2 separate regions of the Homo sapiens genome follow, and region 1 is linked to region 2. Evidence: fine-mapped QTL for protein levels in blood plasma. Region 2 holds a variant in brackets. A gene starts in the other region. All regions are shown on their reverse strands. Region 1 holds the start of TNFRSF17 (TNF receptor superfamily member 17). Region 2 overlaps ALB (albumin).

The links. PIP is the chance, under the fine-mapping model, that this variant and not a neighbour inherited with it causes the effect. The UK Biobank Pharma Proteomics Project read protein levels with antibody pairs (Olink). The fine-mapping took linkage between variants from a reference panel, not from the people measured, so its PIPs are less certain.
Region 1: it holds the start of TNFRSF17, and the variant in region 2 is fine-mapped to the plasma level of the TNFRSF17 protein (UK Biobank, PIP above 0.99).

The regions. Positions count from the first base shown.
Region 1 is chr16:11,960,865-11,969,395 of GRCh38, reverse strand. It overlaps TNFRSF17 (TNF receptor superfamily member 17), which reads right to left and starts at 4,186. Exons shown (of 3, transcript NM_001192.3): 1 at 3,942-4,186; 2 at 3,055-3,201; 3 at 1,328-1,826. The coding sequence starts at 4,071. The coding sequence ends at 1,549. It also overlaps a transcript of NPIPB2 not described here and the pseudogene UBL5P4. RefSeq lists enhancers at 3,959-4,398, 4,519-4,638 and a silencer at 6,150-6,319.
Region 2 is chr4:73,407,502-73,410,106 of GRCh38, reverse strand. ALB (albumin) reads right to left here. Exons shown (of 15, transcript NM_000477.7): 4 at 1,302-1,513; 5 at 620-752. Among named protein-coding and RNA genes, the nearest start is that of ALB, 4.5 kb to the right of the region's middle. The variant T/C (reference allele first, on the strand shown) is at 1,461.

The sequences.
Region 1 (8,531 bases), not on the chromosome of region 2:
AATCCCAGCTACTCGGGTGGCTGAGGCAGAGAATTGCTTGAACCCGGGAGGCAGAGGTTGCAGTGAGCTGAGATCGCACCACTGCACTCCCGTGTCAACGACAGAGCGAGACTGTCTCAAAAAATAAATAAATAAAATTCAAAAATCAAGAGAAACATCCGATCCTTCCTGAAATCTGTATGTATGTATATCGGAGAGAAGCGCCCTAACCATAGAAGCGTATGACTGGGGCCGGGCGCGATAGCTCACACCGGTAATCCCAACACTTTGGGAGGCCAAGGCAGGTGAATCACCTGAGGTCAGGAGTTCAAGACCAGCCTGACCAACACAGTGAAACCCCATCTCTACTAAAAATACAAAAATCAGCAGGGCATGGTGCCACGTGCCTGTAATCCCAGCTACTCGGGAGGCTGAGGCAAGAGAATCGCTTGAACCTGAGAGGTGGAGGTTGTAGTGAGCTGTGATCATGCCACTGCACTCCAGCCTGGGCAACAGAGCAGGACTCCGTTTCAAAAAAAAAAAAAAGAAAAGAAAAAGAAATTGGTTACTGAGATCTACAGAATGCTGTTTTTTTCAGTAAGTCAAGCGTTTAGAGGTCTCTAGTGAGAAGATTGTCATGTCAGCATGTTCAAGGTGATGAGCATCAGCTAGGATGATTGAGGTTGTTTGCAACAACCTCAGTGGAGAGTGGATAGTGTGGAGAAGGTCTGTGTTAAATGCTACACAGATAACACCATTGTGGACCTTAAGAAGCTGATTACAGCCCAGACTAGGGCTGTAACAAGAACAACCCTTTCAGGAACAAGACTCCTGAATAAGTGGTATACAATTTTTAAGGACCACATATCTTTGGGGCACTATAAAATCCAGCAGAAGATGAAGCTGGAGGTCTTTTTGTTTGTTTGTGTTGTTTTGTTTTGAGACGGAGTCTCACCCTCTTGCCCAGGCTGGAGTGCAGGGATGCTATCTCAGCTCATTGCAACCTCCACCTCCCAGGTTCAAGCGATTCTCCTGCCTCAGCCTCCTGAGTAGCTGGGATTACAGGTGCCTACCACCATGCCCAGCTAATTTTTGTATTTTTAGTAAAGACAGGGTTTCACCATGTTGGCCAGGCTGGTCTCAAATTCCTGACCTCAGGTAATCTGCCCGCCTCGGCCTTTCAAAGTGCTGGGATTACAGGCATGAGCCACCGCGCCTGGCCAAAACTGGAGCTTTATTATCAATAGGTTAGAATTCTTTCCCCCTCCCACCTTTCTCTCCCACCCTCACCCCCCACACTGGTATACATGCTTGTTTTTAAAAACTCACGTTAATAAAAACTTAGATGTCAGGAAAAAAAAGAGTTTAATCATGAAACCAAGGAAGTTTCTACCATTAAGCTCCCAACAGTAACCTAGAGAAATATATCTAACATAAAGAGTTTCCACAGTTAGAGGACAAAAAGCTGTATCGGCAACTGAAAAATACAGTCATCCTAAAGAGATCTGACACATCATCTATTCTGACAAAAGATTTTTAAAGTGGCACTGCTCGAGTCGAAATGGTTAATTACCTAGCAGAAATTGATTTCTCTATCTCCGTAGCACTCAAAGCAGCTGGCAGGCTCTTGCAATAGTCATTCGTTTTCGTGGTGACAAGAATGGTTGCGCCTTCCTCCATAGCTGGGAGTGGAAAGCAATGGTCAGAGTCGACCTTCGGTTTGCTCTTGATGCAGTCTTCACAGGTGCATTCTTCCACCGTGTACTCGAGGCCTCTCGGAAGAATAATTTCATCACCAGTCCTGCTCTTTTCCAGGTCAATGTTAGCCATGCCCAGGAGACCTGATCCTAATTATGTAGAAACGGAAACATTAACCCAAACTTCACAGAGAATGTGGTCATGAGAGTCTTAGCAGTACACATCGGGACTCAAAGCAATGTGAGAGAGATTTTTTCATTTTTTAGAGGTGGGGTCTTACTGTGTTGCCCAGGCTGCATTCAAACTCCTGGGCTCAAGCAATCCTCCCACGTTAGCCTACAGAGCAGTCGGGACTACAGCTCCATGCCACCACACCCAGCTTGAAACAGATCTTTTCAGTAAAAAAGAATGAGTATGTGCTGGGCCCTGTGGCTCACGCCTGTAATCCCAGCACTTTGGGAAGCTGAGGCGGGCAGATCACTTGTGGTCAGGAGCTTGAGACCATCCTGGCCAACATGATGAAACCCTGTCTCTACCAAAAAGTACAAAAATTAGTCGGAGGTGATGGCACATACCTATAGTCCCAGTTACTCAGGAGGCTGAGATGGGAGAATTGTTTGAACCCAAGAGGCAGAGGCTGCAGTGAGTTGAGATCACGCCACTGCACTCCAGCCTGGGCCACAGAGCGAGACTCCATCTCTAAATAAATAAATAAATAAATAAATAAATAAATAAATAAATGCATACAGAAATAGGGCAGTGGCTGTACATGCTTGGGAATCCAATCATGAGCAAAGGTGCTGCAGAAGTATTTTTATCTTAAGAGGCACTTAAGTAGAACATTCATTTTTCTGGGACTGGTTCTCTATTGCTTAAAAATAATTATTTTTTAGATGATTCCTCAAATAATTCAGGAGCAACTGGTTATTCATTTCTAACATTTTTCAGTAGTAAAATGTTCACTCAAGCAAAGAACACCTATATTTGTATAAAAACATGACCATAGATCTTGACAAATATGCTTTTCCTGACAGTAGCAGACCTGGCTAGGAGTTTCTGATAATGTGGCATTTAATCGATGTGCTAACTTTAGTCAAAGAGACTGATGTTTCCCAAGAAAGCCTTAGTACTTTCAATAGAGTAATTAACAGTGGAAGAATCCTGGAGAAGACTGACATTGTAGAAAATCTGCCAAGGTGTCAAAATCAGAATGAAGATGGCTCACCTCTACCAAGTTCATTTAATGTAACAATGTTCTAACACATTCGAAAGGGCTGTAACGAAGTGAAATAGTCAACGCTAAAAAAAGAAAAGGAACTGAAACTCACAATAGCCATCCCCTGGAAATAGATTTCAAAGATTCACCATCAAACCAACCTGTGTTTTTAAACTCGTCCTTTAATGGTTCAGAGTTTATCTTCCTTAGCAAAAACATTAGCACGAAAACTGCCAAAGAAATTATTAAGCTCAGTCCCAAACAGGTCCAGAGAATCGCATTCGTTCCTTTCACTGAATTGGTCACACCTTTATGAAAAGAACATCAGACAGATAATGAGCTGATAACATAATATTCACATACTTTATTGTTATTATTTATTTATTTATTTTGAGACAAAGTCTTGCTCTGTTGCCCAGGCTAGAGTGCAGTGGCGCGATCTCGGCTCACTGCAACCTCCACCTCCCAAGTTCAAACAATTCTCCTGCCTCAGCCTCCCGAGTAGCTGGGATTACAGACCTGTGCCACCATGCCCAGCTAATTTTTTGTATTTTTAGTAGAGACAGGGTTTCACCAGGTTGGCCAGGCTGGCCTCAAACTGCCGACCTCAGGTGATTCACCCACCTCGGCCTCCCAAAGTGCTGGGATTACAGGTGTGAGCCATCCACCGCACCCGGCTGTCATACTTGATTATTTTGCTAAAATAATGAATTATGGATTGTTTTGATAGCAAAATAATCAAGTATGGATTATTTCCATTCAATCACCTTAATTAATGAACATTGACTTTTAAATTCTAAATATCACTTAATTAGAAGAGCTGATTTTTAAAAAAAATCTATGTTGCTAATAGTGCTGAATCATATCAAGTTCAGTTCCAAATAATTACTTTGTTTCCATAAACATTAAAATCACTGCCTTGCTTCCTTTCTCTTTTTGATTCAAGAAAACTCACCATCATGCCCATTATGTTGATTCTCTGAATAAGCAGTCCATATAGACAGAATAGTTCACACCAATGAATAATCGTTCAAGCAATATTACTTACTTGCATTACAATAACGCTGACATGTTAGAGGAGGAGTATTAGAAGAACATCGAAGTTGACAAGGTATGCAAGCATGCAACAAACTGTCAAAATATTCATTTTGGGAGCACTGCCCAGCCATCTGCAACATGATCACAAAAAGAAAACAAGGGAGCTACAGAAAGAACAGCCTGGAAGGACAAGTAATATCTCTACAAGAATTCCAGAGCAAATGCAGCAAGAGCAGCTAGAATGTTGAGAACAATGAACTTCGCCTGCTTCGTGGGTTCTTACGGGGGCTGTCTGTGTCTTCGCGGCAGCTAAGGATTTGAATACCACATCTAATTCAAGTTTCTAAGTTTGAGTCTTGGATGGGGTAAGAGACAGGGTGTAAATATCAGGGCATATCACATCTGAAACAGAAACTGCTTATTTATAGAAGAAATTTCTCAGCCAGGTGACAGTTGCAAGATGCAGACAAGCCCACAGCATCAAGCCGAATGTTCAGTAACAGTTTCTGGAACATCTGTTAATAAGCTGTACTCTGTGAGAGGTGCCAGGGAGATAGACAAGACAAGGTCTGTGCTGTGCCCCTTAAGATCTTAACATTGAGGCCAGCTGCAGGGGTTCACACCTGTAATCCCAGGACTTTGGGAGTCAAAAGGCAAAAGGATTGCTTGAGCCCAGGAGTTCAAAATCAGCCTGGGCAACATGGCGAAACCCTGACTTTACAAAAACATTTTAAAAAGTAGTCTGGTGTAAGCTGGGCGCCGTGGCGCTCTCCTGTAATCCCAGCACTTTGGGAGGCCGAGGCAGGTGGATCACTTGAGGTCAGGAGTTCCAGAACAGCCTGGCCAACATGGTGAAACCCCGTCTCTACTAAAAATACAAAAATTAGTCAGGCATGGTGGCAGGCACCTATGATCCCAGCTACTCAGGAGGCTGAGGCAGGGAGACGTGCTTGAACCCAGGAGGCGGAGTTTGCAGTAAGCCAAGATCAGGCCACTGCGCTCCAGCCTGGGTGACAAAGCAAGACTCTATCTCAAAAAAAAAAAAAATTCTACAGGAAGATCAGAGGTGATGCACTAAGGAAGACGCACAATGCCACTGACAGAAAAAGAGACATTTAGGGTAAGAGCTCGTGGAAAGAGGGCTGAGAGGAAGATAGGTTTGGGGTATTATAATAATAATACAATAATCTATGTTCCATTGTTGAAAATTTAGAAATACAGATGAGCAGATAAAACCATTTTAAAAATCCACAGTCCAAGCATCCAGAAGTCATCACCGCTAACACCTGGTGTATCCCAGAAGTTGCAAACAGACCTGCCGATGCGATGTCTTTTGTTTCACCGATCCCTGAATTCTAGATAGATACATTTATATAGTGCATTTTTCTGTTTACATAAATGGATCACTTGAATTTGCCTTTTTTTTTTTTTTTGACAGAGTCTCACTCTGTCTCCCAGGCTGAGTGCAGTGACACAATCACAGCTCACTGCAGCCTCCACCTCCTGGGTTCAGGTGATCTGCCCACCTCAGCCTTCCAAGTAGCTGGGACTACAGACATGCGCCAGCACGCCTGGTAAGTTTTGTATTTTTTGTAGAGATGGGTTTTTGCCGTGTTGCCCAGGTTGCTCTCAAACACTTGGGGTCAAGTGATCCACCCACCTCGGCCTCCCAAAGCGCTGGGATTACAGGTGTGAGCCACTAAGCCCAGCTTGAATTTGCTTTTAACCATACTGAGTGAAATACCCATATAGAGACGTCCAGATGTTTGTCAAAAATGCAGGACTCAATTAAAATTTGAGGAAATGGCAAACTCCTAATTCAGTATAGTGATTATCTCTGAGGTAAGTGGTGGGGAAGAAGGGGAGCACAAAAAAGGCTTCACCTGTGTTTATTATATTTTCTTTATTAAGCTGAGTGGTGGATACATTGATATTTGTTGTTTTCCTTTTGTTGTATTTTTCTTATTCTTTACACTTTCTTAAGGCCCAAGGAGTGTGCCAAGGAAACCTGCCATCCCTTCTACTTTATTTCATCCTCCAAGCACCCCAACCTTTAAAAACTTATTCTTTTTTTTTTTTTTTTTGAGCTGGAGTTTCACTGTTATTGCCCAGGCTGGAGTGCAATGGCGCGATCTCGGCTCACTGCAACCTCCACCTCCCAGGTTCAAGCGATTCTCTGGCCTCAGCCTCCTGAGTAGCTGGGATGACAGGTGCATGCCACCACGCCTGGCTAGTTTTTGTATTTTTGGTAGAGACGGGGTTTCACCGTGTTGGTCAGGCTGGTTTCGAACTCCTGACCTCAGGTGACCCACCGGCCTTGGCCTCTCAAACTGCTGGGATTACAGGCATGAGCCACCTAGCCTGGATGATTTTTTATTTATTTGTTTGTTTGTTTGTTTGTTTGTTTTGAGATGGAGTCTCCCTCTGTTGCCAGGCTGGGGTACAGTAGTGCGATCTGCAACCTCTGCCTCCCGGGTTCAAGTGATTCTCCTGCCTCAGCTTCCGGAATAGCTGGGATTACAGGCATGCGCCATCATGCCCAGCAAATATTTGTATTTTTAGTACAGACAGGATTTCACCATATTGGGCAGAATGGTCTCAGTCTCCTGACCTCGTGATCCACCTGCCTTGGCCTCCCAAAGTGCTGAGATTACAGGTGTGAGCCACCGCGCCCAGCCACTGATAATTCTTGTTTTTAAAATTCATATTATTAAAAAATAAGTATTCAAACAGTGCCAAAGATTTTTCAATGAAAAGTAAGTCTTTTTCCTACCCTGGATTTCCTCTCTCTTGCCAGAGGCAGTAATTACTGTCAGTCTTCCTCTTTTTTTTTGGTTTTTTTTTTTTTTTTTTGAGACAGAATCTTGCTCTGTCACCCAGGCTGGAGTGCAGGGGCGCTATCTCAGCTCACTGCAAGCTCCGACTCCCAGGTTCATGCCATTCTCCTGCCTCAGCCTCCAGAGTAGCTGGGACTACAGGCACCCACCACCATGTCTGGCTAATTTTGTTTTTGTATTTTTAGTAGAGATGGGGTTTCACCATCTTAGCCAGGATGGTCTCGATCTCCTGACCTCATGATCCGGGATTACAGGCATGCGCCACCATGCCCAGCTAATATTTGTATTTTTAGTAGAGACAGGGTTTCACCATGTTGGGCAGAATGGTCTCAATCCCCTCACCTCGTGATCGACCCGCCTCGGCCTCCCAAAGTGCTGGGATTACAGGTGCAAGCCACCGCACCCAGCCTTTTTTTTTTTTTTTTTTTTTAAGACAGGGTGTTGCTCTATTGCCCAGGCTGGAGTGCAGTGGCACCATCAGGGCTCACTGCAGCCTCCACCTTCTGGGCTTAAGCGATCCTCCCACCTCAGCCTCCTGAGTAGCTAGGACTACGCACATGCCACCATGCCCAGCTAATTTTTGTATTTTTTGTAGAGATGAGATTTCATCATGTTGCCCAGGCTGGTCTTGAACTCCTGGGCTCAAGTGATCTTCCTGCCTCAGCCTCCCAAAGTACTGAGATTACATGTGTAAGCCACAGTGCCCAGCCACTGTCAGTCTTCTGTCTTTCCAAATAGAGCCTCTGTTTATGTCTGTCTATTCAGACCCTACCTATTTTATTTGTATCCACCCAGGAGGCAGATAGAGCATATTATACAACTGCTCATACCTTTTTTTTTTTTTTTTTTAAACAGGGTCTCACTCTGTCACCCAGGCTGGAGTGTGGTGGCAAAATTTCAGCTCACTGCAACCTCCGTCTCCCAGGTTCAAGCCATTCTCTTGCCTCAGCCTCCCTAGTAGCTGGGATTACAGGTGCGTGCCTCCAGGCCTGGCTAATTTTTGTATTTTTAGTAGAGACGGGGTTTCAGTATGTTGGCCAGGCTGGTCTCGAACTCCTGACCTCAAGTGATTCGCCCGCCTCGGCCTCCCAAAGTGCTAGGATTATAGGCGTGAGCCACTGCGCCTGGCCTCTTTTTGTATTTTTAAAGTAGTCCATAATAAATGCTAAAATCATGAAAATAAAATGCAGAAATTTAAAAAAATACTTTTTTTTTTAAATGCAGGACTTGAGCCTAGGAAAGATTTTGAACTTAGATATTGATCAAAACGTCAAATTCCTCTGGGGTCCAGGTGGTGAGGTAAGTGGGAGAGGCTGCCTAGGCAGGACAGGGAGAAGCTGAAGCAGCTGGCCCAGGAGGCTCCACTCCCTCAGCCTCTGCCAGATTGCTGACCTTTGGAAGACAGGCAAAGGAGACAGGACAAACATGATTAGAGAAATAGGGAGAGAACAAAAATTATCTCCCAGGCTGGGTGCAGTGGCTCACACCTGTAATCCCAGCACTTTGGGAGGCTGAAGCAGGTGGATCACCTGAAGTCAGGAGTTTGAGGCCAATCTGGCCAACATGGTGAAACCCAGTCTCTACTAAAAATACAAAAATTAGCCAAGCGTGGTGGCGTGCATAATCCCAGCTACTTGGGAGGCTGAGGCAGGAGGATCGTTTGAACCTGGGAGGCAGAGGTTGCAGTGAGCCAAGATTGCGCCACTGCACTGCAGTCTGGGCTACGGAGTGAGACCGTGTCTCAAAAAAAAAAAAGAAAAGAA
Region 2 (2,605 bases):
TATGTAGTTAGAAACCAACTGGAAACATTGCCAGGAAAAAGAGCCTTAAAAGTGGGAGAAAAGTCAGAGAAAGAGTACGCTAATATCCCAGGGGCTGCAATTTTGCTAATTTTTAAATTTTGTGTATAATTCATTTCAGTCTCTCCTCCACCAACATCAGTAAACTCCTCAGAAAAGAAAATAAAGCATTCCATAATATATATTTATGGAATGAATGCATGAACTCAGGCATCTAGATGCAGTAAAATTCTCTACTTTGAATTCCCTCCCTACTAAAAATTATCATGAAAAGATAAACAAGAACTGTGGCCCCTTGCTGTGCAATTTGACAAACAAGTTTCAGTATTTCACTATAGTGATCACCACCATAAAAAGTGGTGAAATCTTTAAACACATGCACAGTGATTACCTCTGACAGATCATCATTGGCAAATCTTAAAAGAAGAAACGAGAGTGTAGGCCTTCAAAGATGAAAGATTTTCAAGACAGATAAAAGGAAGGCTTTTTTGACCATGTCGGAAAGTTTGTATCAGACACTCAGGTTCCCTAAATCTAGCCACAAAATGGACAAAATCAGGTTGGATAATGAACTCTTTTTTTCTATTCTTTTGCATAATACCTTTGGCAACAGGCAGGCAGCTTTATCAGCAGCTTGGCAACATTCTGTAAAAGCAGCTTTATACCTTTTAGCAAAGAAAAGGAGTTCCGGGGCATAAAAGTAAGGATGTCTTCTGGCAATTTCATATAAGTATCTAAATTTTGAAAAAGAAAAACAGTCACTTTTCTATAGCAGACAATATTACAGAAATAATTGTAATCGACATTCTCCCCAGAACCTCCAAATTCCAAAGATATCTAATTAACCAATTAAGCTCAATTTGCACATGATGGTCTTGTCTCTGTCATTCTTTAAGTATGTGGAAAAAAGGGTTAAGTGTGTGTGTGTGTGTGTGTGTGTGCATAAATGGTTAAATTTTGGCAATATAATGTTGCTGACTAAAACGAAATCAATTATAACAACCATATATACATATCTTCGTAATACATTAAATAATTTGTCTATCTTAAATTTTTCAGAAAGATTGTATCCTGTTTCAATAAACTTCAAAATATCTTTGATCATATTTTTTGCTGTGTAGAATTTTGTGGTATCAAATACTACTTCTTTAAAAAATCATCATAACAAAACTTCCAAGTCTTAATGTTGAAAATATTTTTGTTATGGTAATTTTTATAGAGTGTTGGCCTATGGAGTTACTCCATGCTTTTTAATTTTGAACTATAAACATCTGATTACTTACTTTTTCAAAAATGTCTCTTCATTGTCATGAAAAGCAGTGCACATCACATCAACCTCTGGTCTCACCAATCGGGGGAGGTTTGGGTTGTCATCTTTGTGTTGCAAGAAGCATTCATTTCTCTCAGGTTCTTGTTTTGCACAGCAGTCAGCCATTTCACCA[T/C]AGGTTTCACGAAGAGTTGCAACTGTGCATAATTTGTCTCCAAAAAGGGTATGCTAAATGGAAGAAAGCAGGTTTCAGTTGCTGGACAGTACCTTTTTTCTTTATAGCCAAAGAACAGTACAAAGGATTTAATATACTGGTTAAGCTTGGTCAGGAAATCATTTAAAAATCCGCTTCCCCTCCCAATCGAGGTTTACAGTTTCTGATGATTTAACCATCTCTATATAATTTTCATAAGAATTAACTGTCACACTATAACTCATGGTGAATAAAACAGGACAAAAAGACAGTCAATAGCTTTAAGGAAAGTTATATGACTCCTATTTTGAAACTTAAAACTAAAGGGTAAGAGCAATCATTATAACAGAAATCAAGAGAAAATAAGCTTCTAAGCAGCAGGTGAATTCACCTAGGGGAGAAAAACATTCAGAGAGTTTCTCATTTCATTTGCCCCCTTTTTAGAGGGCCATGTTTTAGTATATGCCATTGAAAACTGAGGAGTAACACAATCCATCATATATTAAGTGACTATTAAGATATAGACATTTTTCTTCCAGAAATGTTACCTAAAATCACTTTCCAATAAATGAGTCCTTTCCTTATCTCTAATTTTTATTATGAAAGTAACTGTAACCCCAGGGAAAATATACTACTCTAGACAGAATTTATTAATTTTTATGTATTTTTAAGATTTCATATGTAGAGCCATAGTATTGTGTAAAGTTAAAGTCCTGACTCTGCTGTGAGGGAGAGGTACATAATAAAAAGGGGAAAGGCTCCAGTGATAAAAACTGGCCTTGCCCACAAGAGGTATATATAGATTGAGTGGTGAGAGAAAGATAAACCTGTCCTTGTTTTGAAGATTGATCTGGAAATACTAAAAGTTTAAAGTTCTTCAACATGACTAAGTACTCTGCTTTTTTATTGTATGTAGAAATACAAAGATATCTAAAATGAGGAATATATAGCTGTACTATTATTCCACCCAGGTAACAAAATTAGCATAGAAATCAGTGGGTGTTTTCTGATGATAAAAACCATGATATCATCTCTAAGAGATAGTAGCTCTCCTGTGTTCATTGCAACACTATTCATGATAGTCAAGATGTAGAAAACCAACCTAAATGTCTATCAATCAACAAATT